Linked DNA regions of Homo sapiens. The protein of the gene in region 2 purifies or fractionates together with the protein of the main gene of each other region. This does not show direct contact. Each region holds a gene or a part of one and is shown on either strand. Other genes may lie near its edges. The genes, in order: CHD4, RBM25, SRRM1, SNRNP70, FAM76B, SART1 and SUPT16H.

Region 1 (4,279 bases), on a different chromosome or scaffold from region 2:
TCTCACTCCAATGCCTAGGCTGGAGTGCAATGGCACAATCTAGGCTCATTGCAGCCTCCTAAGTAGCTGGAACTACAGGTGCACGCCACCAGAACTGGCTAATTTTTGTATTTTTTGTAGACATGGGGTTTTGCCATGTTGCCCGAGCTAGTCTTGAACTCCTGGACTCAAGCAATCAGCTCTTTTAAATGCTGAGATTAGCCACTGTGTCTGCCTCTCTGAGAACTTTCTTTTCTTGTCTTTTTTGAGGTGAGTCTCGCTCTGTCGCCAGACTGGAGTGCAGTGGTGCGATCTCGGCTCACTGCAACCTCCGCCTCCCGGGTTCAAGCGATTCTGGAGAACTTTCTTATGCCAATCAGCAATCTCTCTCCTGATATGCAGAATGGCATTCATTTGATTACACATGTGCTCCTACTTGAAACTGAAAGCTCCTTGAAAACAGATACCATGCTTTGTCTTTTTATCCCTGGGCACATCATTGCTTAGTACATAATACCTGAAGGCTTATTAGTGTACCATTTCTTCCCCGATTATACTCAGCGTACGAGACAACAGACACGTCTTTTTTTTTTTTTGAGACAGAGTCTCACTCTGTTGCACAGGCTGGAGTGCCGTAGCACGATCTCAGCTCACTGAAATCTCTACCTCCCGACTTCAAGCGATTCTCCTGCATCAGCCTCCCAAAGTGCTGGGATTACAGGCGTGAGCCACCGCACCTGGCCCACACAGGCACTTTTTAGCCCAGAAAAAAGAACCAGGCCAGGCATGGTGGCTCATGCCTATAATCCCAGCAATCTGGGTGGCCAAGGCAGGTGGATCACTTCGAGGTCAGGAGTTTGAGACCAGCCTAGCCAACATGGTGAAACCCCATCTCTACTAAAAATCCAAAAAAAACAGCTGGGTGTGGTGGCAGGCGCCTGTAATCTCAGCTACTCAGGAGGCTGAGGCGGGAGAATCACTTAAACCCAGGACACAGAGGTTGTAGTGAGCAGAGGCTGCATCACTGCATTCCAGCCTGGGCGACAGAGATTCTGCCTCAAAAAAAAAAAAAAAAAAAAAACAACCAGCAGCCCACTGACTAATAGCTCTACATCTTCAGAGATGCAATTCAATCCCACCTCTATATCTTTCCTGAATACTCCAATCTGCAGTGTTCCCCAAACAAACCCCTCTGCACTAGTGTGTCACTGATTGGACACATAGTCACCTACAGCTCATGTACAGTTAGTTAACTTTCAATTCTGTGTGTCTTCAACCCTAATGTGTAAGTTACTTGGGAGCAAAGCCTTCCATAGAATGAAGAAAGTGAGAACAGTGCGCTGGATGGACAGACTCCCTCTGCTGCAGGACGTTACGCACTTTCAAGTTTGTCACTTAAGCAATATATTCCTCCCCAACCGCTCACCTTAAACCTTCGAGCTAGAAATTTATTCTTGATCTCTAAGAAATTGCCACGGTTCATTTCACCCTTGAAAGGCTCATTGAGGATGGCATAGCGTGGGTCATTCTGGATGTCTTGCCACCGGGCATAGCCATGGCTATTGGAAAAGTGCTCAGGAAAAACAAAACAAGGAAAGTAAGAACCTCAAACTAAAAGACCTTCAGAACCTTTCACCAAAAGCCTCAGTACAGATTCAGGCAAAGGATACTTTATAATGCCGGCTAGCAGCCAGTAGTCATGCCGTCGATGCCAGATCTCATAAGTCTTCTTGGTAACTGTGGCTGCCCGCTCTTCATTCTGCCAAAGGGAGTGCAACTCTGAGGAGGAATTTAGGGAAGGTTGGGGGTGGGGGGAAGCAAACATCTGTGAGAATTGAAAAAGCTACTTATTCTTGTCCCCCACCATCCCCTACCCCTGGATCCATTTCATATAATTTGCTTCTGGCTTTCTCCACAGAACCCACTATCAGTTTGGCATTCCCTCATCAAACAGAGGTAAAGAGGTAAAGTCCCTGTACCGTGGTTTCTGACAAGAACCCCAATTTCACATCAGATCCTTCTAACCCTGGTGGGCCCCTCATTTCCATACCAGTAAAACCACCATCTGCAATGTTAAACATGAAACGTTGTTTAATATTTTTCTTCTGTTTCTCATCATTCAGGTCCTTGGGGGTCTCTCCATTCTGAAGCATCACCTCTTTTTTCTCTTCTTCTTCTTTCTTCTCTTCTACAGAATATGGGGAAGAAAAATGTCAGCTCCAGCCAAAGCCCAGCACCATCGCCCTTACCCAGAACACTGTATGCTACAAGAATCCATCCACCTACACCCCTTCTCCACCTGGGTGTCTCTCAGACCCAGAAAATGGTGCCATTGGCCCACTGACAACTAAATGTGGGGACAGGTACAGTCTTTTATCTTGGGATAAAATGGCTAGATGAGTATGGACAGGGAGGCAGGGCAGATACAGTCCTTGCTTCTGGTTTTAGAGTTCTTCTGAACCACAATCAACTTCTCCAAACACCCACCTTTGTCTTCTACCACAATAGGGGTCAGATCTATTGCTGACTTTTCCTCCACCTTCTCTACATCAGCAGCACCTAGGGGAAGAAATGTTATTGAGACTATACCTAAAGGAAGAACATTCTCCTCTGTTGCACACTATTATCCAATTGGATAGACCCACATCTAAATGTCTGCAATTACAGTAATGTCAGCTGGGCATGGTGGCTCATGCCTGTAATCCCAGCATCTTGGGAGACAGCAGCAGGCAGATCACTTGAGGTCAGGAGTTCAAGACCAGCCTGGCCAACAAGGTGAACCCCAATCTCTATTAAAAATACAAAAATTAGCTGGGTGCGGTGGCTCATGCCTGTAATCCCAGCACTTGGGGAGGCCAAGGTGGGTGGATCACCTGAGGTGAGGAGTTAGAAACCAGCCTGGCCAACATGGTGAAACCCTGTCTCTACTAAAAGTACAAAAATTAGCCAGGCGTGGTGGCTCACACCTGTAATCCCAGCACTATGGGAGGCCGAGATGGGTGGATCTCTTGAGGTCAGGAGTTCATGACCAGCCTGGCCAACATGGTGAAACCCCATCTCTACTAAAATACAAAAATTAGCCGGGCGTGGTGGCGCATGCCTGTAATCCCAGCTACTCAGGAGGCTGAGGCAGGAGAATTGTTTGAACCCAGGAGGTGGAGGTTGCAGTGAGCCAAGATCACACCACTGCACTGCACATCAGCCTGGGCGACGGAGCAAGACTCCATCTCAAAAAAAAAAAAAACAACAACAAAAAAAACAATTAGCCAGGCATGGTGGCTACTCAGCAGACTGAGGCAGGAGAATCACTTGAACCCAGGAGGCGGAGGTTGCAGTGAGCCAAGATCGTGCCACTGCACTCCAGCCTGGGTGACAGAGTAAGACTCCGTCTCAAAAAAAAAAAAAAAAAAAATTTTGGCCAGGCGTGGTGGCTCACGCCTGTAATCCCCGCACTTTGGGAGGCCAAAGCGGGCGGATCACGAGGTCAGGAGGTGGAGACCATCCTAGCTAACACGGTGAAACCCCGTCTCTACTAAAAATACAAAAAATTAGCCGGGCATGGTGGCAGGCGCCTGTAGTCCCAGCTACTCAGGAGGCTGAGGCAGGAGAATGGTGTGAACCCGGGAGGCGGAGTTTGCAGTGAGCCGAGATGGCGCCACTGCACTCAAGCCTGGGCGACAAAGCGAGACTCCGTCTCAAAAAAAAAAAAAAAAAAAAAATTACGTGGGCATGGTTGTGGCACGCCTGCAATCCCAGCTACTCAGAGGCTGAGGCAGGAGAATCGCTTGAACCCAGGAGGCGGGAGTTGCAGTGAGCAGAGATCGTGCCACTGCACTCCTGCCTGGGTGACAGAGTGAGACTCCATCTCGAAAACAACAACAACAACAACAACAACAACAAATAAAGTCATAAGAGATACCTTAAGTTAGGGGAAAACCTGCCACCTAAAATCAAGGGTGCAGGATTCTTCAGTGTGTCGCTTCCTCCTGATATCTCTACAGCCCCAGCAAAAATTCACGAGTGACCATGGTTCACACAGGGATCTGTAGTGCTTAATATGGATACCGGCCAGGCATGGTAGCTCACGCCTGTAATCCCAGCACCTTGAGAGGCCAAGGCAGGTGGATCACCTGAGGTTAGGAGTTGGAGACTGGCCTGACCAATATGGAGAAACCCCCTCTCTACTAAAAAATACAAAATTAGCTGAGCATGGTGGTACATGCCTGTAATCCCAGCTACTCAGGAGGCTGAGGCAGGAGAATCGCTTGAACTCAGGAGGCGGAGGTTGCAGTAAGCCGAG
Region 2 (4,279 bases):
GTGAGACCCCATCTATATTTTAAGACAAAAAAAACCAAAAACTTTTTTTAAATTAAAAGAAATAAAAATAGTGAATTTCTAACTTACCATGGCAACATCATCTAAAATGCTCTGGGGTGAACTATGAGCCATAACCTAAAAGAGAAAAATAATTGTCACATTAAAAATAAATAAAAAATTAACAATACAGTCAAGAAATTTTAAGGTATGAATCCTCAAATTCATACAGGAACTTCTTGCGGCTAAGGAACCATTCTATAAATGTTTTAATTTTCAGAATATCATTCTTCAACGAAAGAGGCACCAAAACCTGGAATATTAATCTCCATAGTGGTCTGTAGTCTAATTTTAAGTCAAATCTCACACAAGTTTTAATGCCACAATAATTACAAGTTAGAGAAGACAGAGTAAATTTACTGTTCATAATATCAAAAGAGCACTACTGGCAAAAAAATACCATAGCTATACCTTTATAGAAATATGGTGTTTCTACTATGTTAACTGTTTTATTAAAGTTAAGACTATGTTTTCAGGAGACAATGGGAAGATATACCTTAGTGGTTAAGAGCATGGGTTTCAGAGGCTAGACTCAGTATAAAACATAGCCAAGACACAATCTCTCCTTAAACTTCAATTTCTTCATGTATAAAATGGGTATAACATTCATGACAGACAGATTCTAAGTGTTAGGTTAAAAGAAGTTTTTCTTTTTTCTTTTTTTTTATTTTGAGACAGAGTCTCACTCTTGTCACACAGGCTTGGAGTGCAATGGCGCAATCACAGCTCACTTCAACCTCCGCCTCCCGGGTTCAAGTGATTCTCCTGCCTCAGCCTCCCGAGTAGCTGGGATTACAGGTGCCTGCCACCCAGCGCACCCAATTTTTGACTTTTTAGTAGAGGCGGGGTTTTACCATATTGGCCGGGCTGGTCTCAAACTCGTGACCACAAGTGTTCTGCCCCATTGGCCTCCCAAAGTGCGGGAATTACAAGGCGTGGGCCACTGTCTTGTTAACATTTTATAGAACTTTATCTTCGGCTGGTGTGATGGCTCACGCCTTGTAATCCCCGCACTTTGGGAGGCCAACTTGGGCAGATCACTTGAGGTCAGGAGTTCAAGACCAGCCTGGCCAACATGGTGAAACCCCATCTCCACTAAAAATACAAAAAATTAGCCTGGTGTAAACCAAACACCACATGTTCTCACTCATAAGTGGTAGCTGAACAATGAGAACACATGGACACAGGGAGGGGAACATCACACAGCTGGGCCTGTCGGCGGGTGGGGAGCTAGGGGAGGGAGAGCATTAGGAGAAATACCTAATGTAGATGACAGGTTGATGGGTGTAGCAAACCACCATGGCACATGTACTCCTATGTAACAAACCTGCACGTTATGCATATGTATCCTAGAATTTAAAGTATAATTTAAAACAAAAAAAGAAAAAAAAAATTAGCAGGGTGTGGTGGCATATGCCTATAGTTCCGGCTTCTCAGGATACTAAGGCAGGAAGATCAGTCTAGGCTGGGCGTTCAAAGCTGCAGTGAGCCATGATTGCGCCACTGCACTCCAGCCTGTAGGACAAAGCAAAACTCCGACTCAAAAGAAAAAACAAAAACAAAAAACAAAAAACAAAACAAAACAAAACAAACAAAACTAACACAATACCTGCCGAGAACACAGCCTGTCAGTCAATAAACACTGATCGTTACTACGATATGAAAGGAACTATTTTGATCCTATCCAAAGGATGGGTGACTGACAAAGGAGTTGGGAAAAGATATTGGCTACGTCCAAAAAATCTCAACATAATTATTCCAACCAAGACAAGAAGAAGATGGCACAGCATTCTCAGGGGCAGAAAGACAGCACACAATTGGCAGTAACCAGCAATTCCATCCTCCTCGACCACTGAAATAAAAACATGTGGTGTGAGGAGTCTGAAGTTGGATGGAAAGGTTCATTAAAGCAGACATAAATCTGCATCCACTGCAGTGAATAAAAAAAAACACACCAAAAATAAAAATAACTTTAAAAAAGCAGATATAAATCACTTAACTGAACCTAAACCATCATGGAACTTGACTCTGTAAAATTTCTGCTCTTTTAAGAAGTGTCTAATATTTTAATATATAAAATAAATGCTGGCATGGAAGAGAATAGAAGACTAACCTTAGAACAAACAAAATCAACTAATGTAGCTTCTTCTTCACCTATATATTCTATGATTTTCTTATTAATCCATGGTCTAATTCGACGTTCCATCAGTATCTGCAAAACAAACCACGGTTACTGAATTAAAGAATTGTAACTTGCTATAACAGTTATTAAAGCTTCATGATTTTTCCTGAGACTAAAATATAATGTTATTTCACAAGTTGAACTAAGACAGATATGTATCAAGATACAATCATCTGCTTTTAGTAAGTCTTCAAGTAGCACAAAAAAAATTTCCATTATTACTAATTTCTTGACCATGGCATTGAGTTGGTGTCAAGATGATCATCCCTACTTATTTGTCATTAATAGAATCAAATGAGGTTTTTTTTTCTTCAAATGAATTTGTATGGCATATTCCAACTGTTCCCAATAATATGATGAAATATAATTTCCTACTCACAGAATCCACAATAGACCAATCCAGGGGATAAGCGAAGAGCTCAGGTTTGGCTGTAGGGATTTTCTCAATGAGACTCTTAATGTGTTTACGCTTTTCTTCAGTGTTTACAGTGCCTTTGGTTGCATTTTTATCATCTTCACCATAATCCAAGGGAACCAGTTTCCTTTTTCGGGGTACGTCATCACTGTCTTCATCCTCAAATTTGTTAAAGACACTATCTACAGGTAGTTTCTTTCTCTTCACAGAATTAGGCTGACCAGGACTATTGGAAGCACCTACAGTAAAAACACTCTCTTAGCAAGATGACTTAATTTCCAAATGTTTCATTTTATAACCCACCATCCCTCAAAAGCAATGCAAAATATACTTCCACAAATCTTAGAGAAAGATCCCAACTGTAAAAAATAACTCACTACTCACAAGTGCTAGAAAATTAAACTTTTCACTTCTTCTCAGAACTCGAGGCAGCTGCAGATATAGGAGCACTAGTAAAACTATGAAAACAATCGTGAGCTAGAAAGGCATTTTTTAGTAATCTTCTATCTACCTAACCAAGCACAAATATAAATTTTTTTCTTTAAAGCACAATACAGGTATTTGCAGGGGTGAAGGGAAGAAAATAAAGAAGGAAGGAAATGCTAACGTACCCAGTTTAAGACTTAGTCCTATTTTTGGCCTATGCTCCTCAGGTTGCTGTTGATCTGGTGAGTTTTCATGAGGAATAATAATACCACAGGGAGACTCATCCCCAGGAGTGTTAGGTGTTGCATTGCCACTGGCAGAGGAAACAGATGGAGCAGAGCTGATGGGCCTCAGAGTAGGTTTCAGACAAGGCTTTTGCTCTGGCTCCTCTTCCTCTTCCATGGGTTCTTCTCGTTTTTCTTCTTTTTCTTGCTTTTCTTCTTCCTCCTCTTCTGATTCTGGCTCTTGCTTTATTTGTGGCTGCCTGCGCCTCTCAGCCTCTTGTTCCATCTAAAACCCAAACAATAATCTGATTAACTACAACTCTACACCATTCAACTTGATTTTTGTTTTACATTACCTCTTGTAAAATATCTTTATGAAAAGAGAAAAGGCCAGGTATGGTGGCTCATGCCTGTAATCCCAGCACTTTGGGAGGCCGCGGTGGGCAGATCATCTGAGGTCAGGAGTTTGAGACCAGCTTGGCCAACATGGTGAAACGCTGTCTTTACTGAAAATACAAAAATTAGCCAGGTGTGGTGGTGCACGCCTGTAATCCCAGCTACTCAGGAGGCTGAGGCAGGAGAATCGCTTGAACCTGGGAGGTGGAGGTTGCAGTGAGCCTTGCAGAATCGCACTACAGCCTGGGCAACAAAGCAAGACTCCATCTCAAAAAAAAAGAAAAAGAAAAAGAAAAAAAAAAGGACATGGGCAGTGGCTCAATCCTGGGTAACACAGGAAAACCCCATCTCTACAAAAAAGCATAAAGTATTCAGTCAGGCATTCTGCTCATGCCTGTAAGTGTCCCAGATACTCACGAGGTAGAGGCCTGAGGACCACTTGCCCAGGAGGCAGAGGGTGCAGTGAACAGAGATTCCGCTACTGCACTCCAGCCTGGGCAACAAAGCCAGACTCTGTCTCAGGGAAAAAAAAAAAAGGCCGGGCACGGTGGTTCACTCCTGTAATCCCAGGACTTTGGG
Region 3 (4,019 bases), on a different chromosome or scaffold from region 2:
CTAAGCAATTACTTAAAATTCCTCACAAGTTAGCTTGCACAACTATTCAGTCAACCCAATTAAATATGGACATCTGAGGCCACAGCAGGAGGATCACTGGAGGCTAGGAGTTCAAGATCAGCCTGGTCAACACAGCAAGACCCTGTCTCTACAAAAAGTTAAAAACAAAAAACCAGCCAGGTGTAGCAGCATGTGCCTATAATCCCAGCTACTTGGGAGGCTGAGGCGAAGGGATCACCTGCGTCCAGGAAGGCTGCTGTGAGCTATGATCATCCCACTGCACTCAGCGTGGGTGACAGCATGAGACCCTGTCTCAAAAACAAACAAAAAACAGATGGACACCTAACCACTGATTTTATGCAATACAGAAACCTGCCCAAGATCAGATGTATAACTCACAAATGGGAAAAAAAGTTTAAACACCAATATTTTAATGCCCCAATGACATTTTCTCTGCTTCAAAGTGACCATATACATATTTATAAAAGGGTGTCCAAAATAAGGCAGACACATACTCTTGGCGGTGATGGGCTCGGTGTTGGGCTTTTGGCCTTTTTGACCGGTACAGCTGGTGACCAGTTTGTAGACGGTGACTGAGACTGGACGGGGGATGGAGGTGCTGGGGGCTTTTTAGCTGCTGGCTCAGGAGACCCGGAGACAGATCGGGAGGATGAGACCCTTCTTACAGACTGTGGGCTTGGGGAAGCAGCCCTAGACAAAAAGGAAAAAACATTCAGCATTGAGAACAGCCATCTCTCTTCACATGAGAAAACCACCAACTACACTGTACAACCAGGTTATGAATTTCAAATATACCACTTAGATTGCTGGTTGATTCAACTAACATATATCCAATTTACATTACCTATGTTTCCCAGAGGGTGGCTAAAGCCCCATAATCCTCTATCTATTCTGTTAATGATGCTTCTTATGTAAGATTAGTAATGTCAGTTCCTTACATCACACACAAGAAATGTTCAATGTCTTACTCAAGTTTAGTTTTGGAAGCATACCCCTCAAAAACAAATTAATAACTGCTAAGAACCAAGTAAAAGCCTGTGGCATTTAACTTATACCACAGAAACTATCCCAAAAAATGGAATAAGATCTGTAAATAGTACCTCAAGTTTGACTTAAAAGCTCATATTCATAACTTATTCCTTTTATATGGGGGTGGGGGGAAGCTTCCAAATATAAACAGCTATGTAAGTATTCCTAATGGAAAAGCATAAAATATTTTTACTTTTTTATCTTTTTAGGTTCCGGAGTCCTGGAGACTCTCCTAATGGGCCTAGTACTTGGAGACGGGGACTGCCTTCTTTGGGGTGATGACGACGCTCCTCTTCGAACGGGTGGAGGACTTGAGGAGGTCTGAGGAGCTCGAGGCCGTGGTGAGGGCGAATGCCGTTTGTTTGGTTGTGGTGATCGGGCCTCCCGGGTAGAGCGGCTTGGGGAAGACCCTTTCCTATGCTTGGATGATAATGAAGGTGAACGTCTCTTGGTGACTGGGGAGCTTCTTTGTTTGGGAGGTGGAGAATGGGAGACCCGCCGCTTTGGTGGTGGAGATGGTGATGCTCTTCGTTTAGGAGGGGGAGGAGGTGAAGCCGTTCTTCTCTTTGGAGGTGGAGAAGGAGAGTATCTCCTCTGTATTGGAGGAGAGTATCTTCTAGGAGAAGGTGAGCGCCGACGTGGGGGAGGAGAAGGAGTCCTAGGAAAAAGATACATAATTAAGCTGAAAGGCTCAACAAAATACAGAAACAGGATGAAAAGTAATCAGTAGGTTTGGCTATACTGTAGTTAGCACTAGGCAAAGGGAATATATTTATAAGTGAACATGCTATCTTTATATTCTCACTTAAATATCAATAAAACTTGTTTATCTCAGCTGACTGCAACACAGGACACTGTCTGCAGGACTAAGTACAAAAAAGAAAAAAAGACATTTTGATTAACAAAAATTTGCAATTTTCAGAAGATGTGAATTTGTCAATCTTTTAACATCTATACAAAATTAACGTTTTTTGAAAACAGAATCTTGCACTGTATTAACTGAACATCAGTTATTATATAATAACCAAGTAACTGTATTAGCAAAACTCTATTATGGTCACCTTAGGAAGTCTGCACTTTAAAGAGGTCTCCTATGTGGTATCCTCTCTGAATGAGCATTTGGACACTGTATGAATAATTAAGAGTTCACTGCACAAGCCTTAAAGACACTTCTACCTCCCCTCAAAGAGACTGTTCCATTTTCTGTCTCAAAAGGCCACTTTTCAGGCCAAACTGCCTAATTTCCTCTTGGATATTGCAGACTTTTAGATCAAAGTAAATTCCTGCCCAGAGTTAGCTTTACAATAGGCCATATATTTTGGCAATGTGGTAGGGCACAATTTCATCACTGTATCTGGGTAATTACTTAGTAATTCTCAACTCCCATTTCCTCACCTGAAAAATGCAAACAATACCAACTATCAAGCAAGGTCGCTTTGAAGACTAGTAGTAAAGCATATAAAGCACCTAGCACTTTGCCTGGCACTTAACAGGCATTCAAGAGTGGCAGCCAGGCTGGGCAGAGTGGGTCACACCTGTCATCCCAGCACTCTGGGAGGCTGAGGCGGATCACCTGAGGTCAGGAGTTTGAGACCAGCCTGGCTACCATGGTGAAACCTCATCTCTACAAAAAATACAAAAACTGGCTGGGTGTGGTGGCAGATGCCTGTAATCCCAGCTACTCGGGAGGCTGAGGCAGGAGAATCGCTTGAACCCAGGAGGCGGAGGTTACAGTGAGCTGAGATCGGCCACTGCACTCCAGCCTGGGTGACAGAGTGAGACTGTCTCAAAAAAAAAAAAAAAAAAAAAAAAAAAGAGTGGCAGCATGTCATTACATTGCTTGGCAACATATCCGAGCAATGACATTAAAACATTTTCCCCTAATTTTCACTTTAAAATAGTTGTAAAGAAGAGCTACAAAAATAGGAGATTTGCCACTTCACCATGCTAATATTTTATATAACCATAAGAAAATTAGCAAAACTGTAAAATGAACCTCAGTGATAACTTAGTATTACTAAAATAGCAAACAACCCAGTTTTCCACTACTGAATGTCCCTTTTCTGTTCCAGGACTTAATCAATGTTCCTTTTCTGCTCCAGGACCCTACATCTCTTTAGTTCTTGCCAATCTGTGACTGTTTCTGTCATTGTCTTTCATGACTGACACTTTTGAATACTGGTCAGGTATTCTGTAAAATGACTTTCAATTTGGGTTTGTCTGATTATTTCCTAATAATAAGACTGAGGTTTGGCATAATTGGTAAGCATACTACAGAGGTATCCAGGAAATACACGATGCCAATGTTTTATTGAGGATGTTATCTTTGATTATTTAGGTAAGAGATATCTGCCAGTATCCTCTAAATTTTCTCTTTACAATTACTAGTCAATACCATCTTTTAATGTATTAACATCTTTATGACAATACATGATTCACCTGCTATAAAATCTACCTATTTACCCATTTAAGGTCCATTTAAAGTATACAATTAAATGATTTTAGTATATTCATATAGTTCTGCAGCTATTACCATCCCCATGTCCACCCCACCCTAATCTGTTTTCTATCTCTATAGATTTGTGTATTCTAGACTTTTCATATAGATGGAATCATACGTGTTCTTTTATGACTGGCTGAACAATGCTAGTCTGCTTACTCTAATAAGATATAATCATCAGAAAGATTCAGAGATCCTTTTGTAGTTCATAAGCATGATGATTGGGTTTTCACATGCACACATGAGCTGTGCCTCTCTCCAACCTTGTTAGGAAGTGAGCACCATTACTCATCTGATGTTATCAGGGGCGGGGGGAGTTGGGGAGATGCTCCAGTTAGCATATTTGACAAAGTACCTTCGTCGTGGTGGTGGTGTGGGAGTCCTGCGCCGTCGAGGAGGAGGGGCGGGAGAAGGAGACCGTCGCCTTCTGGTGGGTGGTGGGGATGGACTTCTCCTCCGTCTACCACTA
Region 4 (4,106 bases), on a different chromosome or scaffold from region 2:
AGAAGCAGGCAGCGGACCAGGCACCTGCCATGTCACAGGCACAGGGCAGCTAGACTAGCCTTTCCTATATTCAGGTCATGACCCAGAAATGAGTCCCATCATCAATCTGATGGGTTGCAACCAACATCTTAAGAAACAAAACAGCAGAATACAACTATATACTTACTACATAGAAAAAACTGTTTCCTCAAACTTTAGGTTACAGTATTTCTGCGGGTGCACCGAGTCAAGATGTTATTGGCTAACACCAACAAAAAGTTTGAATGGCAATTGAACTAGAAGATTCTGAGATTCTGGAAAGACTGAGATTCTAGCATTTTCCCGCCCCAACAGGAAACAGCAGAGCTATAAGAACCCACTCCACCCCAGAGAGACCAGAGTAAGGTAAGAACATGCCTGGTAAGCTCCGAGGCTCAGCAGCTGAGAGCGTGGTCTCCCTAGCACAGGCGAGTCCAGAGCCAGGACACAGGGCTGGGAGGCAGGACAGGAGCCCCAAGTGGCTACTACTGCCTGGGTGTCTGCCCAGGGACCATCATCTTCTCTGACAACTGTCACTCAGCTTTGCAGGATTCAGTCCTCAATAAGCATGCCTGAGCAACAGGACCCCAGGCCCAACACTGAGTCAATCAAATGTGCCCACCCCGAAACAAGAGACTCATCCAGGACTGAGTGTAAAGCTGGGGCCTGTGGCCTGCTGCGCTGGGCCAGTGCAAAGAGGCATGGGACCGACCTAGCTGCATGGAGGCAAACGAGGCAGAAGCAAGCTGTGGGCTGTCACACATCACAGGTGGGTCGCCCCAGTTTTTTTGTTTTTTGTTTTTTTTTTTGAGACAGAGTCTTGCTCTGGCACCCAGGCTGGATGGAATGCAGTGACTCTATCTTGGCTCACTGCAACCTCTGCCTCCCAGGTTTAAGCAATTCTCTGCCTCAGCCTCCCGAGTAGATGGGATTACAGGCACCCGCCACCACGCCCAGTTAATTTTTGTATTTTTAGTAGAGATGCGGTTTCAACATCTTGGCCAGGCTGGTCTCGAACTCCTGACCTCATGATCCACCCGCCTCGGCCTCCCAAAGTGCTGGGATTACAGGCGAGCCACCACGCCTGGCCTGGTTGCCCCAGCTCTTAACAGCGTCAGCTACCAGGTTCTCAGGTCCACGGACATCACATACCTCCGAACTCCAAAGGATGCCCATGATTCTACATCAACAGGGCCCTTTATGTTTCAGGAAGCTCAAGTTTATTTCTGATACTTGCAGCCAAACTGACCTTGCCTGAGACAGCAAATGACAATGAGGAGACCGAATGCAGGAGGCTCAGAGGGCAGAGGCTGCCTCTGTGTTGCTCAACTAGAAGCCCGGCACACAGCTGGTGATCCAATAGGTACTTGCTGAATCAGTAAAAGAGTGAACAAGAGCAACAGCAAGCAGCAGAAGCAGATGAGCGAGTGACATTTACAACCCCAGCATGCGTCACTGCCAAGCTGGGCGCCCAGTACACTGAGCTCAGTGAACTCGGGGTTATTTCCACTAAGAGGAGTACAATGAGGCAGGAAAAGGGGACCCCCAGCTAGCAAGGGCGGACGCCAGCATGTGGGCTCAGGCCTCTCCAGGCTGGTGCCCCTGCTCCTCACAGTAACCCAGAACGAGGAGGCAGGCAGCTGTCAGAAATGTGATGGCCACAAGAGAGAGAAGCCGGAGATGAGGACGCGATGGGAGAGGTGGGCCGGCAGGAGACAGAGAAGCAGAAAGCAGCAGAGAAGGGAGAACAAGGCCACCAGGCCCAGGGCCCCCGAGAGCCCGTCGAAGGCAGGATGTGCTCACCTAGCCGCCGGGGCCTCCAGCCCTTCACGGTTCGGCCCCTCTCCACGTCCACAAGGACCCTCCTGCCATCAATCTTCTTGCCATCTGCGTGTTTGTAAGCGGCTGTAACAGATGTGGGGAGGGGGAGGGGAGAGGAGTCCCCAGAGGGTCCTCTAGTCAGGACAGGCCCAGCTCTACAGAATCCCCGCCCCGTGTCCCCATCATCACGCACACGCACACGCCCAACAGACAGCCAGGCAACTGACAGCCAGACCAACCCTCTCCCAAACCGGTGAAGGGCCTGCTCCATCTCAGCGTCTGCTTCCTCTCAGCGCCCCAACCACTCCTGGTCGGGGGAGACGTCCACCCTCACCCGCCACCCCCTAGGCTCCCCGGCCCTTCCTCTCCCACATGATGGAACAGCCCCCTCCCGCCAGGGCGGCCAAAATCGCTGCAAAGAAACTGAAGGTTAACTCCACGCTGGACTCTGCTGTGGGGGAGGGGGCTCCTCCACAACCCCAAGCATGCACCCTGAGACACCAAGCCGGGGCAGGAGGCCCAGCTGGGACGCTCCGCACCCCAGACCACACCGGTTTTTTCTGTTTTTGTTTTTTTTGGAGGGGGGTGAGTGTGGGGGGAACAGACATCAGAACAGAAAATGAACCAGAAGGGGGTGGGAGAAATCTTCAGGAAATGGCAGGGAGCAGAGAGGCGGGTTATACACTCCCAGGGGGCCTGGCGGGGCCCCTGCAGCAGGGGAGAGGGGCAGTGGAGGAAGCATGGGGAGCCGTGCGGTGCTACTGAAAATCCCTGCCTTACCTGAGACGACTGACTCTGCCTCCCCCCAGCCCTGCCCCATCTCGCCCTCCACACCCCCGGCTCAACACGTGCTGGGAGCGCACCCCAGCCTGAGCCTGCCAGGAAAGGGGAGTCGTAGAGGGGAGACGGGGGAGAGGCTCACTGCTGCTCTCGGGCAGCGCGTAGCAGAAGGCAAGCCTGAGGCCCTGGCCTGTGATCAACGTGGGGCTGTCATGAAGGCCAAAAAGTCCCCGTTCCCCCACCCAGCCCTGGCCTAGGGGGCTGTCCTCAACCAACCGTAATACCCTGCCCCGCCCCAGCCCGCTCCCCCCCAAATAACAACCAGAGGAAGAGAAAAAGGTGCCATTTACCGATGCCGGCCTTGCGGGTGTCCAAACCGAGCGGGATGGGGGGGGCTCGGCAACTCCTGGGGGCCTGGCGAGGAGGCGGGCTTCCCGGGGGGGGGACACGGGACCGCTTACCTGGAGCCCCCAAGCTTACCTGAGCACGCGCACAGACCCCACACCCACCACCACGGGGTCAGCTAAAGCTACAGGGAGGGGAAGTGGGGGGTTCTAGGGAGCCAGGAGAGGGAGAGGAACCACATCTCCTGTACCACCTGGAGACAGGCAGAGGACGTGGTAGACCCCAAAGAAATCTCAAGGAGGCCTTAGAGTGGGGGAGACGAGGATTATCATCCAAGCTGGGCGCTGGAAAGCCCTGGACTATCTCGTGTGAATTTACAAAGAAGGCTAGGGAGGCCTCAGAAACCTGTCCGCCCTCACCAATCCCCGAGTCACACTGAACTAGGCACACAGCCCACCCCCTCCGAGGACCAGGAGTGACTTCTCCACCTCCAAATCCATGCTCCCTCCCACCAGCTGCGTCTGCAGAGGCTGGCACACAGGGGTCCAGGAGACGGTGCTGCCCGTGCTCTGAGGAGGGGCCGCTTGGCCCCTGAACCCACGGGAGGGGAGTGGGGAAAGGCATTTAAGGACCAGGATCAAAGTCAAGCGAAGGAACCCCGCTCGGGTTCAGAGTCCCAAACCCCAAAACAGGCCCATCCCGGGAGGAACAGCAAAGAAAACATGTGATTGTGTTCGTCTAGGCCTCTCTCTCTCTTTCCCTCTCTCAAGTCTCTAGACAGTGGAAGGTTCTTTAGTAAAAACCTACGACACCTTCAGCTGCTAGCAGCCTACCCCTTGGTCCCTCCCACACCCCAAGCCCCAATTCCATGCACTTTAGGGAGCTCCTGACCACCTCTGGAGAGCTGCTGGACACCACAGCCAGCCCCCTCGGGAGGCCTCAACCACAGTAAGGAAGACAGAAAGGGGGCAGAGCACCCCAAAACTAGCAGCCAAAAAGACTCTCCAGGGCCAGCACAGTAGCAGCCCCATAGAAAGCACGGGGGCAGGGAGGGAAGGCTGAAGGGCTCCAGTGGAGCCCTGGCCTGGAGCCCTGCCCTCGGTGTTCCTGCCACCTCGCCGCTGACATCACGAAGCCGGGTC
Region 5 (4,279 bases), on a different chromosome or scaffold from region 2:
CCAATGATATTCAATTTTTTTTAAAGCACCCATCAGAACCACTCATTATCTTGTTGTTCCTTTAGTTACCAGTCATCTGACACTGATTTTAGTGTGGTTTGAGCAGTTCCACATCATCATTTCCTATCTCATGAAAGCTTGAATTTTTACAAAGATTCAAAATTTCATTTCATCATCTGACTTGAATTTCATTATTAAATGTCCATCCATCACTAGTTTAGTGAAGAGGAATGTGTAAGTACAGTGAATATTTTCACATTTTGACTGCCTTTGTCACCTTATTCAGTCTCTTAAATATGAAAACTTAGATAGTAAGGATCCCTATATATACAAATACATTAATGATCAAGCATTTTTGTAGTTTGAGCCAAAATGGGGAAAGTGATGAAAATAGAGCACTGCCCTAAAATTAACACATTTTAAAAAGATATCCTCTGACTTATGTTTCAACACCATTTTCCTTCACAGGTTCCAGGAATTTTTATTATATAGACAGACTTTTTTAATCTCAGTACTTCATATTTTATTCTAATTTTAGCTTTTTACGGGCAGATAACACTCTGCCTTCTCTGTATGCCATCTTAAAGTGGTTTCATGAAATAACCTTTTTCAAACTTTATTCTTCCATTCCCCCACCCTTCTTCTCCAATCACTCTTGCTAATTAACACCCATGACCTCTAAAATGCAAATATTCTCAGTACTATCTTATATGTGCAAATCAAATAATTTTTTATGTTCAGATGCATGATCAATAGAACTTTCCTATTCAGTGGTTATTAATAACTAAGGTGGTAACGAAAAACTTCAATTTCAAATTCAGTATCAATTTCAAATTTTGAGTCTGCAAATTTGACTCAAAAAGATCTCCACTAGATCTGTTAAGTTATATTTATCTAAAAATGTTTATACTGATACAAAATAGTTAAAATGTGAATCTCCAAGTTCTTATCTCAATTATCAAGAAATAAAGTGTTTATAATTTTCATATTTTAAGTACAAAATACAATAATTTGAACATTAGGTCTTCAAAGCAATTTTTCCATTTAATGCTTTGGTAGCTAATTTCCAATTTGCTTTTAATATATTTATATCACTAATAAAGATATTTCTTAATAAATTACATAAGACAAAAGTCTTTATGGTAAATAAATAACACAATTGTTAAGTACAAGTCCAAATTATTCTAATTTGAATACTTTAAAAATGAATTTTATGCCATATTTCAATATATGTACATTTAAATTGTTTTATCCTAAAATTACTTCATTTTGCAGCCAGCCAAAAAAAAAAAAAAAAATCAATGAAATTCTTTACAGACTCTTAAGAAAGCTAAGTTTTAAAGTTTAGACATGTTGGTGCAAAGGAAAGAATATCAGGATTAAGAATTACATAGATCCTGCTTTAAATCCTGGCTTACTTACCAGCTACATAACCTGGAGCATATTTTCTCATTTGTAACACAAACTCCACCATCCGAACTCAAAATGAGTTGAAGGAACTTATCAAATATATAAAACACTTAGCCTAACACAGTTCCTGGTACACAGAAGGCACTCAAATGTTAGGTCCCTTTTCCTTTTAACCACTTACCTAATTAAGTGAATAAGAGTTTTAACTTGATATTCTTAGTATTTTCAATATTTGGGGTATTTTGGGGTGACATTTTGAACAATTTTTTCATGTGATGTTCAGTGTTTTGTCGTAGGTTTGGCAGTTAAAAATATTTTACTAGCTATTAGAGCAAGATCCATCTTGTGTCACAGGATTCAATTCCTTATTACATAAAGATAAAAAAAAAATTACCGGTTTCCTCACCTCAGTAAAGAATCCTACTAGTATCACTTGGTTGCTAAAGGAAGTGAGGTAAAAAGATGGCACTCAGCTATGACAGATTGTCTCTAGCCATAACACAAAAAAATCAGGGAAGTGGCCTGATAGGAAGGATGAAATAGAAAACCTGAGGAACCTGAAGTGGTGGGAACTAGTGTAGGACAGGGAAAAGTATAGATAAACTGGAGTGAGAAGACAGAGATTTCTACGTCACCGCTTACTGTGTGATCACAGTTTCCTCTGTAAAATGGGCATATCACATAACCCAGTTTTTGCAACAAGTAAGACAGCATATGTAAAATCATGTCAAAATGTCCTATTTAAATATTGGTTACTTTTATACTACATGAAACTTCAATTACCAAGAGGAGGTAGGCCTAAGATATCTATCAGGCTAAGTCAAAGATGACCCCATGTATTTGCAACTATGATTTTAAAAAAGAAAAACCAACACACAAACTGCTCTTTTGAACAGTGGGGAGCACTAAGTTAAAACATATCTGAGCACCTATTGCAGTTATTCTGTTATCTCATTCTGGATTTACTTCAGAGCTTTGGTTACATTACATTAAATCAAAGATCACCAGGTGGAAGATTTTGTTCCAGGTAATCATTCAGCATTAATAACTGAGTAAGAAAAACAGGAATAACATAAAATTAAAAATAATACTTGCTGGTGGATAAAAACATTGACTAATATATAAGAATCTGATATATGATACGGGCAATCTCTCAGAACAGAGGGCTGATGGGCATTTCCATAAATCACCACCTAGTCAACAAATTATTTGAATGCCTACTATGTCTCAGGTTCTACATGAGGTTCCTTTTTCAACAGTCTTTGTAATAGTATGATAGGGATTAAGACCAGATAATCTGTACCTCGAATTTGAGCAAGTTCCTAAATCCTACTAATTTAAGCTACTTGCAAAGAAGTATGAATAATACAAAACCAAAAGAAAGAAATAGCAAATATCCTTTGGTGTTACAATGTGAAAAAAAAAAAACAAAATGAAACAGGACAGTATTAACTCCTTCCTTCTGAAGCTGTACTCTCCCAAGTCTGACGTCTGTGTGCTGCCATCTTCCATTAACATTTAAAACTTCTTTCACCTTAAAAATTTTGTTACTAAAGACTAATTTTACAAATGTGAGACTGTATAAATCAAAGAGAACATGTAATTAATTTAGTGTGGTCTGATTTCTAAATGTATGAAACCTAGAAGAGAAGCAGCTTAATATGGTAGCATTCTGTATCCATGTTGGATGTTCACCATCTCTGCATGCCAGACATCAGATTATTACTGTGGTGACTCTTGACTTTACCATTCAGTTGTTCTGTATACTTAAACTGCTACTTTGCAGTACTCTGAGGTTCAGGTGGATCACTACCTGTTAGCATTTAGCAGAACCCTATTTGGCACTTTGCGAACCACTGTACACAGGTTAAGTAAACTCTCTTGCTTTGCACACATTTTTGCCACTCCAGGTCCTTAAGAATTGGTTTTATACACCCATCTCCTTTCCCATTATCTGGAAGGAAATATTAATGTGAGGAATGATTGCTACTGAAGACCTGCTTTTCACCTTAGTTTCATTAATCTGATTTTTAATTTTTTGCTATAAGCCCAATAATTAATTGAACACACTCCAATGATACCCTCCTCCAAAAACTCCATTTGAAGTTTAGGCAAAAGTTTTCAAGATTAAAGTACTGAATCCCCCTTTCAAGTAATTTCAAACAATAACTTCTAATGAGATCAAGATTAAAAATGATTATAAAGTCAAAATCAAAACTGAAATGCACCAACTATGCACAAAATAGGGCTACCAATAACAATCTAAGTCAATGAATGCTATTACTCAAGTTTAGCCCTTCTTGCCTATCATTTTACGTAAATGATGGTAGTTACCTGAAGTTGTTCCACAGTTTCTTTGTGGGCTTTTTCCATACTGTTCATTTTTGTTCTCAAATTTGACTCTTGGTACTGAAAGTCTGCCTTTAGTTCAGTTAACTGAGAGATTAAAGAAAAAATATATGTATATATTTGCACACATACACACACACACCATTTTAAATAACTTTCACAATAAACTCACATTTCATTACAAAAGTAGAAGATGTTAACTGCAGTTTCCTGAATTGTACAAGCTATCTAAAGTTTGTTTGGTGAAATGATGAAGTCTATCTGCTTCACAATAGTATAATTTTAATGTTAATACCTGACCATCAGTAAAACTTCTCAGTTTTCTTTTTTTCCTAAACATGGCTCGACTGGAAATAGAGTTTGGCAACTGGTATGCCAACGAAAAAAGCTTAACGGCTAATAACTGGGAAAATGCCTCATTTAAAAATGTACTTCAATAATAGTAAAAACAATATAAACATTTAAACTAGCTTATGCGTAAAATAATCTTTCAATGCTTAAAGAAAGAAATTTCACACTG
Region 6 (4,279 bases), on a different chromosome or scaffold from region 2:
CCCATGGCTATCCTGTTCACCAATGACCTTCTCAGCCCAAGAACAATGCACTACTCACAGCAGGCATTCAACAAACATGCACAGAAGAGAGAGGCAAGGAAAGGATCCCCTACTAAAGCAGGCATCTAAAAATTTTTGCAAAACATGACTTTAAACAGAATAGAGGGCTGGGCACGGTGGCACACACCTGTAATTTTAGCATTTTCGGAGGCAGAGGCAGGCAGATCATGAGGTCAGGAGTTGGAGACCAGCCTGGCCAACATAGTGAAACCCCGTCTCTACTAAAAATATAAAAATTAGCCGGGTCTGGTGGCGTGCGCCTGTAATCCCAGCTACTCAGGAGGCTGAGGAATAAGAATCACTTGAGCCTGGGAGGCGGAGGTTGCAGTGAGCTGAGGCTGCGCCACTGCATTCCAGCCTGGGCGAAAGAGCGAAACTCTGTCTCAAAAAAAAAAAAAAAAAACAAACCCAGAAAACAAAAAACAAATGGAAAAGAGGCTTCAGACAGGAATGTGGCTGTCGCCTATGACACAGGTGCTCGTGAGGACAGGTGACTGCTGACGCAGTCACCCTGCCCATGCCCAGCCTCACCTTCTCGCCACTGTCTCGCAGCTGCTGTAGCTGCTGTAACTGTCGCAGCCGGCGTCCCTTCTCCAGCTGCTTCTGCAGCTCCAGCTCCGCCTCGTCCTCCTCCAGCACCTGCGGGGACCCCGGCGGTGGAGCTCCACCTTCCTCTGGGGGAAACACAGGGGATGCCTGCTCAGACCATCTCCTCCAACCCGCGGCTCCTGTCCCTGCCCCTCCCACCCCCTGGCCGGGCCCTCACCCTCATCACTGATGTCCATGTTCTCCACTCGGGTGTCGTCCGACGGCAGGGGCTGAGGCACAGGCTCCTTCTCCTCCTCCACTTCGGACACTCGGCGGCGACCCCGTCCCCGCAGTCTGAGGGAAGGAGGCCTCTCTGGTGAGCACCGGTCCCCAGGCCACCCCAGCCCAGCCATCTCGCCCCACCACCGTGTCCAAGCCCACCTGGAACCAAAGTCCCCATCCTGAGTCTGGTCCCCGAGAGGCAGCAAGTCATCTGCCCGCACTACTACCTCCTTCTCCTTCTTGCGGATTTTCTTCACCCTCCGCTTGGTCTTTTTAAAGGTCACCTTAAGGGAAGAGGGGCGAGACATGGAGCGGGGGCCACAGAAAGGCAGGTCGCCACAAGCCCTCGAGGGTGAACACTTCTTTGGTGTTCCTCTGTGCTAGCCAGCGTCCTGAGCGCTTCCCACACATGAGCAACATGTGGGGTGGTTACTATCTCAATTCCACTGGTGAGCTAGGGAAACTGGGGCACAGGGAGGTTAAGTACCTTCCCCAAGGTTGCCCAGCTCCTAGGTGGGAGAGCTGGGCAGTCTGGCTCCAGAGTCCTGCTCTTACCCACTGAGGAAGACGCCTACCGCGCCAGCTGTCTACCTCACGTTCACACAGTCACCCTGTGGACAGAATCCACGCACACCTCTCCAGTCACCCCTCACCCACGCTGTCACTCATCCTCACAGCAACCTCAGGAGGCGGCTCCTGTCACTGCCATTCCAGATGGGGTGCCCCAGGCTCACAGTTAAATGGTTTATCCAAGGCACGAGCTGGCAGCATGGCAGAGCCGAAACAGACTGGGGCCCATCTGGCTCAGCAGCCCTGACCCATCCACACCTGGTGCCTCCCCCGGTTGCCATTTAGTGCTCACCCGCGAGGCCAAGCGCTTTGTGAACACAAATACTCGCCCTGTCTTCTCAGTGCCTGCGGGCAGGGCAGGAGCCCCAGAGGGAGGGAGAATCTTGACCCCGAGTATAAGGCACGGGAGGGCTCACCATCTCCTCAGGCGTGAGGTATTCGGAGGCCAGCCGGGGCCCCACTGTGCTCAGGGACTGAGCCTGCAGCCGCAGCTTGGCCCGGATCTCCTCCAGCTCCCGCTCCCGCAGGCCATCAGCCGTGCCGCCCTGCTCCAAGCGGAAGGAATGTGGCCGCTCCCCTTCAAGCTCTTCGTCATACTTGGACAGGATAGAGCGAGGTTTTTGCTGCAAGGCAAGAGGTACAGGTTGGGACCCAGGCTGGCTCCTGAAAAGCCACTGAGCCACCACCTCCTCAGAGCCCCCATTCCCGACATTCTCCACCTCAGCCCCCGCCACCCAGCCTGCCCAGGCCGTGCCTGCGCCAGGTCGTCCACGCTCTCGTCCTCGGCATAGGGCAGGTAGTCAGGCTTCTTCTTCCGCAGCTCCACATTTTTCTCTGCCCGCTCCTTATCCACCAGGTTCACGTTCACCAGCACGTCCTCCTCCTCCTGCAGCACGCCTGGGGGCAGCACAGAGCAGTGGCCATTCACACTTGTCCGCAACTCAGCAGAGGCTGTGCCCCCACCCAGGGCACCCAGCTCGCATTACCTTTGTCCTTGAGGGTAAGAATCATTGTCTCCCCTTCTCGGAAGGAATCAATGGCATGCTCCACGGTGAGGCCCTGCAGGTCCCGGGCACTGTACAGGTCCTAAGGGAAGAATCGGCGAGTCAGGAACCTCCCTCCACGCACCCAACCTCGGGATTCCGGTAGCAAGGCCACCAGTGTCCCCTGTACCACCCCTGCTGCAGCCTCACCTGCCGCCTCTGCCCGAACTCCTCCTCCACCAGAGTGCTGACACCAAACTCTTGGTCCATCTCCTCCAGTAACTTGGCCTACGGGACAGGGAGGGGTGACCTAGGACTTCAGGCCACTCAGCATCACCAGAAAACACTCAGGGCTCTACCAAGCGGAGTGCAAAAAGGGCAGGCCTTGCAGGAAAGCTGCTGAGAATCCAAAGTAGATGCTACCGACCACGGCCCTTCCCTTCTCCAAGCCCCGTCTCACCTCTCTGGGGTTGGCCCCCGCCTCAGTGCCGTCAGGCCACCAGAAGCACTAGGCGACCACCCCATGCTGCCCAGGTGCTCACCCTCTTCTCTGCCAGGTCCTTCTCCTTCTGCAGCTGCCGGCTCCTCTCGATCCAGGCTGCAGTGTCGTCCAGCCAGGGGTCATCCTCTCCTAGGGTCTTTATCTTCCTGAAGAGGGGAAAAAGTGATGCTCAAGGAGCCCAGCTCCTGCTCCCCACCCCACTCAAGAGGCAGCCAAGGATGGTGGCCTCCCCAGCCCTTCCCTTGCCTGCCCTGGCCAGGACCCCTCACCCCAGCTTTTGGTTCAGCAGGCGCTTCTCCTTGGCAGCCGCCAGCTTCTCCCGCAGCTCCTCTCGCTGTCGCAAGGCCATAGGGTTGATGACATCAGCTGTCACGGGCTCCTCCTTGGTGCCCGCCTCTGGAAGGGGGGCCCAGACGTGAGGCTATGCCCGCCCATGGCTGGTGGGGAGAGGAGGGAGCCACTCACCCTGCCCCCTTCCAGCTCAGGGGGCCAGAAGGGGTCAGGACAGGAAGGAACAATCCTTCACCTCCCTGCTCCCACTTCGTCCCCACACTCCTGGCCAACCCATGCAGCACAACAGGACCCTCTGTGGCTTCCAAAGCCCCTCAAATCGTGCTTTAAAGAAAAACAAGAAACCCACCCCCGCACAGCGCAGTCTGCAGCAAGTGTGCACATCTTCCAGTCCATCTAACAACTCACAGCCAGAGTGAGTATGCGACGGCCACAGCTCCAACTCAGAGAGCAGGCGGAGCCCCAGATCCCCATTATACCAGCAAGGAGGGACCTCATGCCTTCCGGCAAATATGCATGTGTAAGACCACTAAACAGTGCTGAACCTGCCCTCTAACCCCACCTTCTTCAAAGACCCCTTCAGATGGCCTCTTTCCCCCAAACCCTATCCTCAGCCCCATACTCACCCTTCTTGATGGCATTAACCTCCAAGGGTTTCAGCCCCAACTTTGCCCGGAGTTTGCTGACAACAAGAGATACAAGTGTTAGGGGCTATTAAAGACACAGGGTGCCATGTGCATTTCCAGACAGACAAGAGGAGAAACAGGGTGGGAGTGAGTGGTCCCAAACACAAAGTCTGCCCCAGGCAGCCTAGGACACTGGGAAGGGCCCTGGCCTCCAAAGCAGGAAACATGGGCACCAGCCTGGTCTGCGTCTAACCAGTGAATGCCACTTTACTCTTAGGTTTTAGTTTTCTCTTCTATAAGTCAACTGTTGGCTAAGATGATTTAAACAATCTTTCCAACTCTGATTAGCACACTTTCATGTGAGAAAGCCTCCCCCGTGCTGGCCCCAGAGCCACCTCTCTTAGAAAAACAAAGTAGAAACAAGGGAGACAGTACTC
Region 7 (4,279 bases), about 52 Mb from region 2:
AGGCTATGTATGTATACTGGAAATAGAATCATATCAGCCTTCTCAAAAGTAACACTGAAGTCTTTGACGCCAAATAATGGCTTCAAAATTCTGAGCAAAAAATGATTTTCAACACAGAATTTTATACCTACTGCATTAACAAAGCCAATAGAGTTGACTTTGGTTAACTATATTATTAACCAAAAGTGAGGGCAAACTAGCACTTTAAGACATGCAAGGGCTGAAGACATTTATATTCTATGCATCCTTTTTTTTTTTTTTGCATGGGGTTACAGTGGAGCTAGTGGTGAGCTTTTTATTTATTCTTTTTTTGAGACACAGTCTCACTCTGTTGCCCAGGTTGGAGTGCAATGGCACGATCTCAGCTCACTGTGGCCTCTGCCTCCTGGGTTCAAGCGATTCTCGTGCCTCAGCCTCCTAAGTAGCTGGCATTACAGGAATGTGGCACCATGCCTGGTTAATTTCTGTATTTTTAGTAGAGATGGGGTTTCGCCATGTCGGCCAGGGTAGTCTTGAGCTCCTGGCCTTAAGTGATCTGCCCACCTCGGCCTCCCAAAATGCTGATATTACAGGCGTGAATGAACCACTGCGCCTGGCCCATCTTTTCTTACGAAGTTCTTAGAGAAAATGTGCTAAAGAAAAAACAAAGCAGAGGCTCTTGGATATAGGGGACCCAATATTGCAAAGTCCCGAGGTTCAACAGGCCTAAAGAGTAACCTATACAGATGGAGCAGGATAATGTGGGGGGTGGAAGTGGGGAGTGAGGTTGCTTTTAAGCAACAGAATAAAATTCTGAGTGTGAGAAATTTAGAATAAAAGACTGGTAACAGGATAATGTGGGGGGTGGAAGTGGGGAGTGAGGTTGCTCTTAAGAAACAGAAGAAAATTCTATGAGTGTGAGAAATTTAGAATAAAAGACTGGTAACATTATAATAGATTTATTGGAAAAAATTAAGGCTAGGGAGACTTTTTTTAAAGGAGAAAAACTGAGGAAATCATTAATGCCAGGAAAAATAAAAAACTGTAGAAAAAAAGGAAAGTTAATCATACTTTATTACTTCACCCAGCAGTGAAAACATCTATATGAACATAAACAATGTAAATAGTAACTACTTATTTTACTAAAAATTGTGGGGAAAAGTTATGAAGAAGGATGGATGTGTGATAAAGCAAGTACAACAAAATGTTAACTGTGTGGGGTGGTGGGTATAAAGGGTTTACTTAAAATTCTTTCAACTTTTCTGTCTTTAAAATTTTTCATATCAATGTGTCAGGAGAAAAATGTTAAGGTATCAGGAGGTAGGGAAGTTGGAATGAGTGTGATGACACAAAGAAGTTAAATTCAGATTTACCATAAGTTAATAACCGTTAAAAATTCACAAATCAAGAAATAGCAGTATATATAGATATTATTTAGAAATATGAAAGAAACAAAAAACTCAAAGTGGTTGCCTCTGGGATAGGTGACTTTTTGTTTTAAGGCTTTTATTAGAACTATGACTTTTAAAAAACTATATCTATTACTGATTAAAATAATTTTGAAAGTGAGAGTTAAATAAAATATAAAACAGGTGGCAAAGAATCTGCAAAAATTGTGAAGGTGGTATCTGGATGATAAAAGTTGGAGAAATAGTGCAGCAGCAGAACAACTATCTTCCTTTGAACCAAACTGATACTGCCTTAAAAAAAGAAAGTATTTTTGCAGTCTGGTTGTAGCTAAATACCCATATAATCAGTTACCACTGTTCACTGAGTGACTTCTATATGCCAGGCACTGTAGTTGTTAATAGGGATAAAAAGTAAATATAAAAAGTAGAGATCTAGGGCTGGGTGTGATGGCTCATATCTGTAATCCCAGCACTTTGGGAGGCTGGGGTGGGTGGATTGCTTGAGGCCAGGAGTTAGAGACCAGCCTGGCCAATATGGTGAAACCCCATCTCTACGAAAAATACAACAATTAGCCGAGCATGGTGGCACACACCTGTAATCTCAACTACTCAGGAGGCTGAGACACGAGAATTGCTTGATCCCGGGAGGCAGAGGTTGCAGTGAGCTGAGAATGCTTCACTGCATTCCAGCCTGGGTGGCACAGTCAGACTGTCTCAAAAAAAGAAAAAAAAAAAAAAAGTAGAGAACTAGACTATAAAAGCTGAGTAAGCAATATTTAAAAAAAAATCTCAATCCATCTGGGCATTTATTTCCATCTAACCCTCCTTACTCAGCATTATTAAAAAGTTTCTTGGCCAGGTGCAGTGACTTACACCTGCAATCTCAGCACTTTGGGATGCCGAGGTGGGCGGATCGCTTGAGCCCATGAGTTTGAGACCAGCCTGGGACAACACGGTGGAACCCTGTCTCCACAAAAAATACAATAAAATAAATAACAATAATAATAATAATAAAAATTGGTCAAGTGTTGTGGCATGCACCTGTGGTCCTAGCTACTCAGGAGGCTGAGGTGGGAAGATCACCTGAGGCTGGTTTGGTTGAGGCTGCAGTGAGCAGTGATTGTGCCATTGCAATCCAGCCTCAGCCACAGAGTGAAACTCAAAAAACAAACAAACAAACAAACAAACAAACAAAAAAACCTTTCTCTATCCCACTCCAGAGATAAAGGAGCTATTAAGAGCTGAGTGTGAGTGGAAGTAATCCACTGCCTGACTGAAATAACAGGAAATGCCTATACAGCTGGCTCTCCTTATCTGTGGATTCAACTGTGTACTGAAAATTAAAATGGCCAAACATTTTTCTATGTCATTACCCCCTAAAAAATAAGTATAACTATTATTTACATGCACTTACACTATATTCGGTATTATAAGTAATCTAGAAATAAAAAATAATGGGAGGATATACATAGGCTATGCAAATATGCCATTTTGTTATCAGAGACTTGAGCATCCTTTGATTTAGGTATCTAGGTATGTCCTGGAAGCAATCCCTGACAGATACTGATGGAAGACTGAATTTTTTTTTTTTTTTTAAAGAAATGGGCTCTCTCTCACTATGTTGCCCAGGCTGGTCTTGAACTCCTGGACTCAAGCAATCCTTCCACCTCAGCCTCTGGAGTAGCTGGGATTATACAGGCATAAGCTACTATGTATTTTTTAAAATCCTTCCTGAGCCACAGAACATAGCTGTTGAATCTTAATAGAACAACCCAGAACAAGAAACTAAGCCACCATAAAAATCTGCAAAGAGCCAGAAAGCTCCACTCAAGAGAAGCACTGACACTTTAATTCATTAGTTTCTTCAAAGGCATAAAATTTCTTTGGGGTCAGTCTTCCACTACCCCAATCCTGACAGTTGGTGTATGCTCACAAGAATGTGAGTATTCCTTCTGAAAACAAATATTTTTGACATTTTATGGAATTCTTCAAGAAAAAAGGCAGATGAAGTCAAGGTCCACTCATATCAGAATGTCCCAACAGGTAGGTCTCAAATGATATACAGATATGCCTGGATATTGTACCACTCAGCCCTCAAGGCAGCTGGAACCCTGGGATGGTAGATAACCTCTTTTGTTTCTCCCAATGACCAGCACTAATCATATTACTTGGTTAAAAATAATCGTAATCATGAAAAGGCTGGCAATCCCTGAAGAAGGATCTAGTAGGCATAAGAGGACAAAGAAACATGCAGCCCATTTCCAGGAACCACCACTACCACCTGCGATATTCTAATAATACAGAGAAGGTGCTGCAAATCCTTTCTGCTCTTAGCAGCTCTCACTTAAAACATAAGAGGCAAGACTGGATCTAGACTCAAACCTCCAGGAGTCATAAAACAATAGTACGTTCTAAGGTCTCCTGTTGATTTTTGACTGACTCCATTTTCCCATCTCTAAAATGACACGATTTACTTAGATACAGGGCTTAATATTTTTGAAATTTCTATTCAGTTAAAAGTACATGGTAACTACAATTGTTTTTAGGACATAAGTTATGAAAATTATAATTAAAAAATATTTTATTTGCAATAGCCTCAAAATATGTACCTAACTGAAAATTAACTTGCAGATAGGTAAGGTTAATTCCTATTCTTATTTTTAAAAAAGGGAAGAAAAAGCTTAGTAGCCTATCAGTTCTCTACAACCCTGTGTACTTGTATTTGGACTGCTGGAACTACCAGGTTCAACCACTACAGCTTTTAAGGGCTTATAATCAAGAGTATTTAAAATTAAAAGTGGGTTTGGAGCCCAAATCATTTTTTAGTTAATTTTAGTCATAACAGTTTTTTTTTTTAAGATGGAAGCTGAAAGCAAAAGGCTTGGGATTTA

The links.
Region 1: the proteins of RBM25 (region 2) and CHD4 purify together in Homo sapiens (affinity purification with mass spectrometry; 2 studies listed by BioGRID, with this or other methods). This does not show direct contact.
Region 3: the proteins of RBM25 (region 2) and SRRM1 fractionate together in Homo sapiens (co-fractionation; 3 studies listed by BioGRID, with this or other methods). This does not show direct contact.
Region 4: the proteins of RBM25 (region 2) and SNRNP70 purify together in Homo sapiens (affinity purification with western blotting; 2 studies listed by BioGRID, with this or other methods). This does not show direct contact.
Region 5: the proteins of RBM25 (region 2) and FAM76B purify together in Homo sapiens (affinity purification with mass spectrometry, with the first as the bait; one large-scale study listed by BioGRID). This does not show direct contact.
Region 6: the proteins of RBM25 (region 2) and SART1 purify together in Homo sapiens (affinity purification with mass spectrometry; 2 studies listed by BioGRID, with this or other methods). This does not show direct contact.
Region 7: the proteins of RBM25 (region 2) and SUPT16H fractionate together in Homo sapiens (co-fractionation; one large-scale study listed by BioGRID). This does not show direct contact.

What each region holds. Positions count from the first base shown.
Region 1 is NC_000012.12:6,576,380-6,580,658, forward strand, and holds part of CHD4 (chromodomain-helicase-DNA-binding protein 4), read right to left. Parts: intron 2,539-4,279; coding exon 2,467-2,538; intron 2,343-2,466; exon of another isoform or gene 2,174-2,342; intron 2,168-2,173; coding exon 2,030-2,167; intron 1,759-2,029; coding exon 1,650-1,758; intron 1,539-1,649; coding exon 1,406-1,538; intron 1-1,405. UniProt on the Homo sapiens protein: ATP-dependent chromatin-remodeling factor that binds and distorts nucleosomal DNA. Acts as a component of the histone deacetylase NuRD complex which participates in the remodeling of chromatin.
Region 2 is NC_000014.9:73,110,142-73,114,420, reverse strand, and holds part of RBM25 (RNA-binding protein 25), read right to left. Parts: intron 3,591-4,279; coding exon 3,266-3,590; intron 3,113-3,265; coding exon of another isoform or gene 2,997-3,112; exon of another isoform or gene 2,894-2,996; coding exon 2,619-2,893; intron 2,270-2,618; coding exon 2,171-2,269; intron 136-2,170; coding exon 88-135; intron 1-87. UniProt on the Homo sapiens protein: RNA-binding protein that acts as a regulator of alternative pre-mRNA splicing. Involved in apoptotic cell death through the regulation of the apoptotic factor BCL2L1 isoform expression.
Region 3 is NC_000001.11:24,666,812-24,670,830, reverse strand, and holds part of SRRM1 (serine/arginine repetitive matrix protein 1), read right to left. Parts: intron 4,017-4,019; coding exon 3,906-4,016; intron 3,849-3,905; exon of another isoform or gene 3,744-3,848; intron 1,709-3,743; coding exon 1,244-1,708; intron 712-1,243; coding exon 516-711; intron 1-515. UniProt on the Homo sapiens protein: Part of pre- and post-splicing multiprotein mRNP complexes. As a component of the minor spliceosome, involved in the splicing of U12-type introns in pre-mRNAs. Involved in numerous pre-mRNA processing events.
Region 4 is NC_000019.10:49,102,451-49,106,556, reverse strand, and holds part of SNRNP70 (U1 small nuclear ribonucleoprotein 70 kDa), read right to left. Parts: intron 3,131-4,106; exon of another isoform or gene 2,970-3,130; intron 1,924-2,969; coding exon 1,822-1,923; intron 1-1,821. UniProt on the Homo sapiens protein: Component of the spliceosomal U1 snRNP, which is essential for recognition of the pre-mRNA 5' splice-site and the subsequent assembly of the spliceosome. SNRNP70 binds to the loop I region of U1-snRNA.
Region 5 is NC_000011.10:95,772,178-95,776,456, forward strand, and holds part of FAM76B (protein FAM76B), read right to left. Parts: intron 3,847-4,279; coding exon 3,745-3,846; intron 1-3,744. UniProt on the Homo sapiens protein: Negatively regulates the NF-kappa-B-mediated inflammatory pathway by preventing the translocation of HNRNPA2B1 from the nucleus to the cytoplasm.
Region 6 is NC_000011.10:65,964,134-65,968,412, reverse strand, and holds part of SART1 (U4/U6.U5 tri-snRNP-associated protein 1), read right to left. Parts: intron 3,899-4,279; coding exon 3,843-3,898; intron 3,322-3,842; coding exon 3,195-3,321; intron 3,072-3,194; coding exon 2,966-3,071; intron 2,712-2,965; coding exon 2,634-2,711; intron 2,527-2,633; coding exon 2,427-2,526; intron 2,338-2,426; coding exon 2,195-2,337; intron 2,064-2,194; coding exon 1,857-2,063; intron 1,155-1,856; coding exon 1,030-1,154; intron 943-1,029; coding exon 827-942; intron 735-826; coding exon 592-734; intron 1-591. UniProt on the Homo sapiens protein: Plays a role in mRNA splicing as a component of the U4/U6-U5 tri-snRNP, one of the building blocks of the spliceosome. May also bind to DNA.
Region 7 is NC_000014.9:21,377,330-21,381,608, forward strand, and holds part of SUPT16H (FACT complex subunit SPT16), read right to left. Parts: intron 1-4,279. UniProt on the Homo sapiens protein: Component of the FACT complex, a general chromatin factor that acts to reorganize nucleosomes. The FACT complex is involved in multiple processes that require DNA as a template such as mRNA elongation, DNA replication and DNA repair.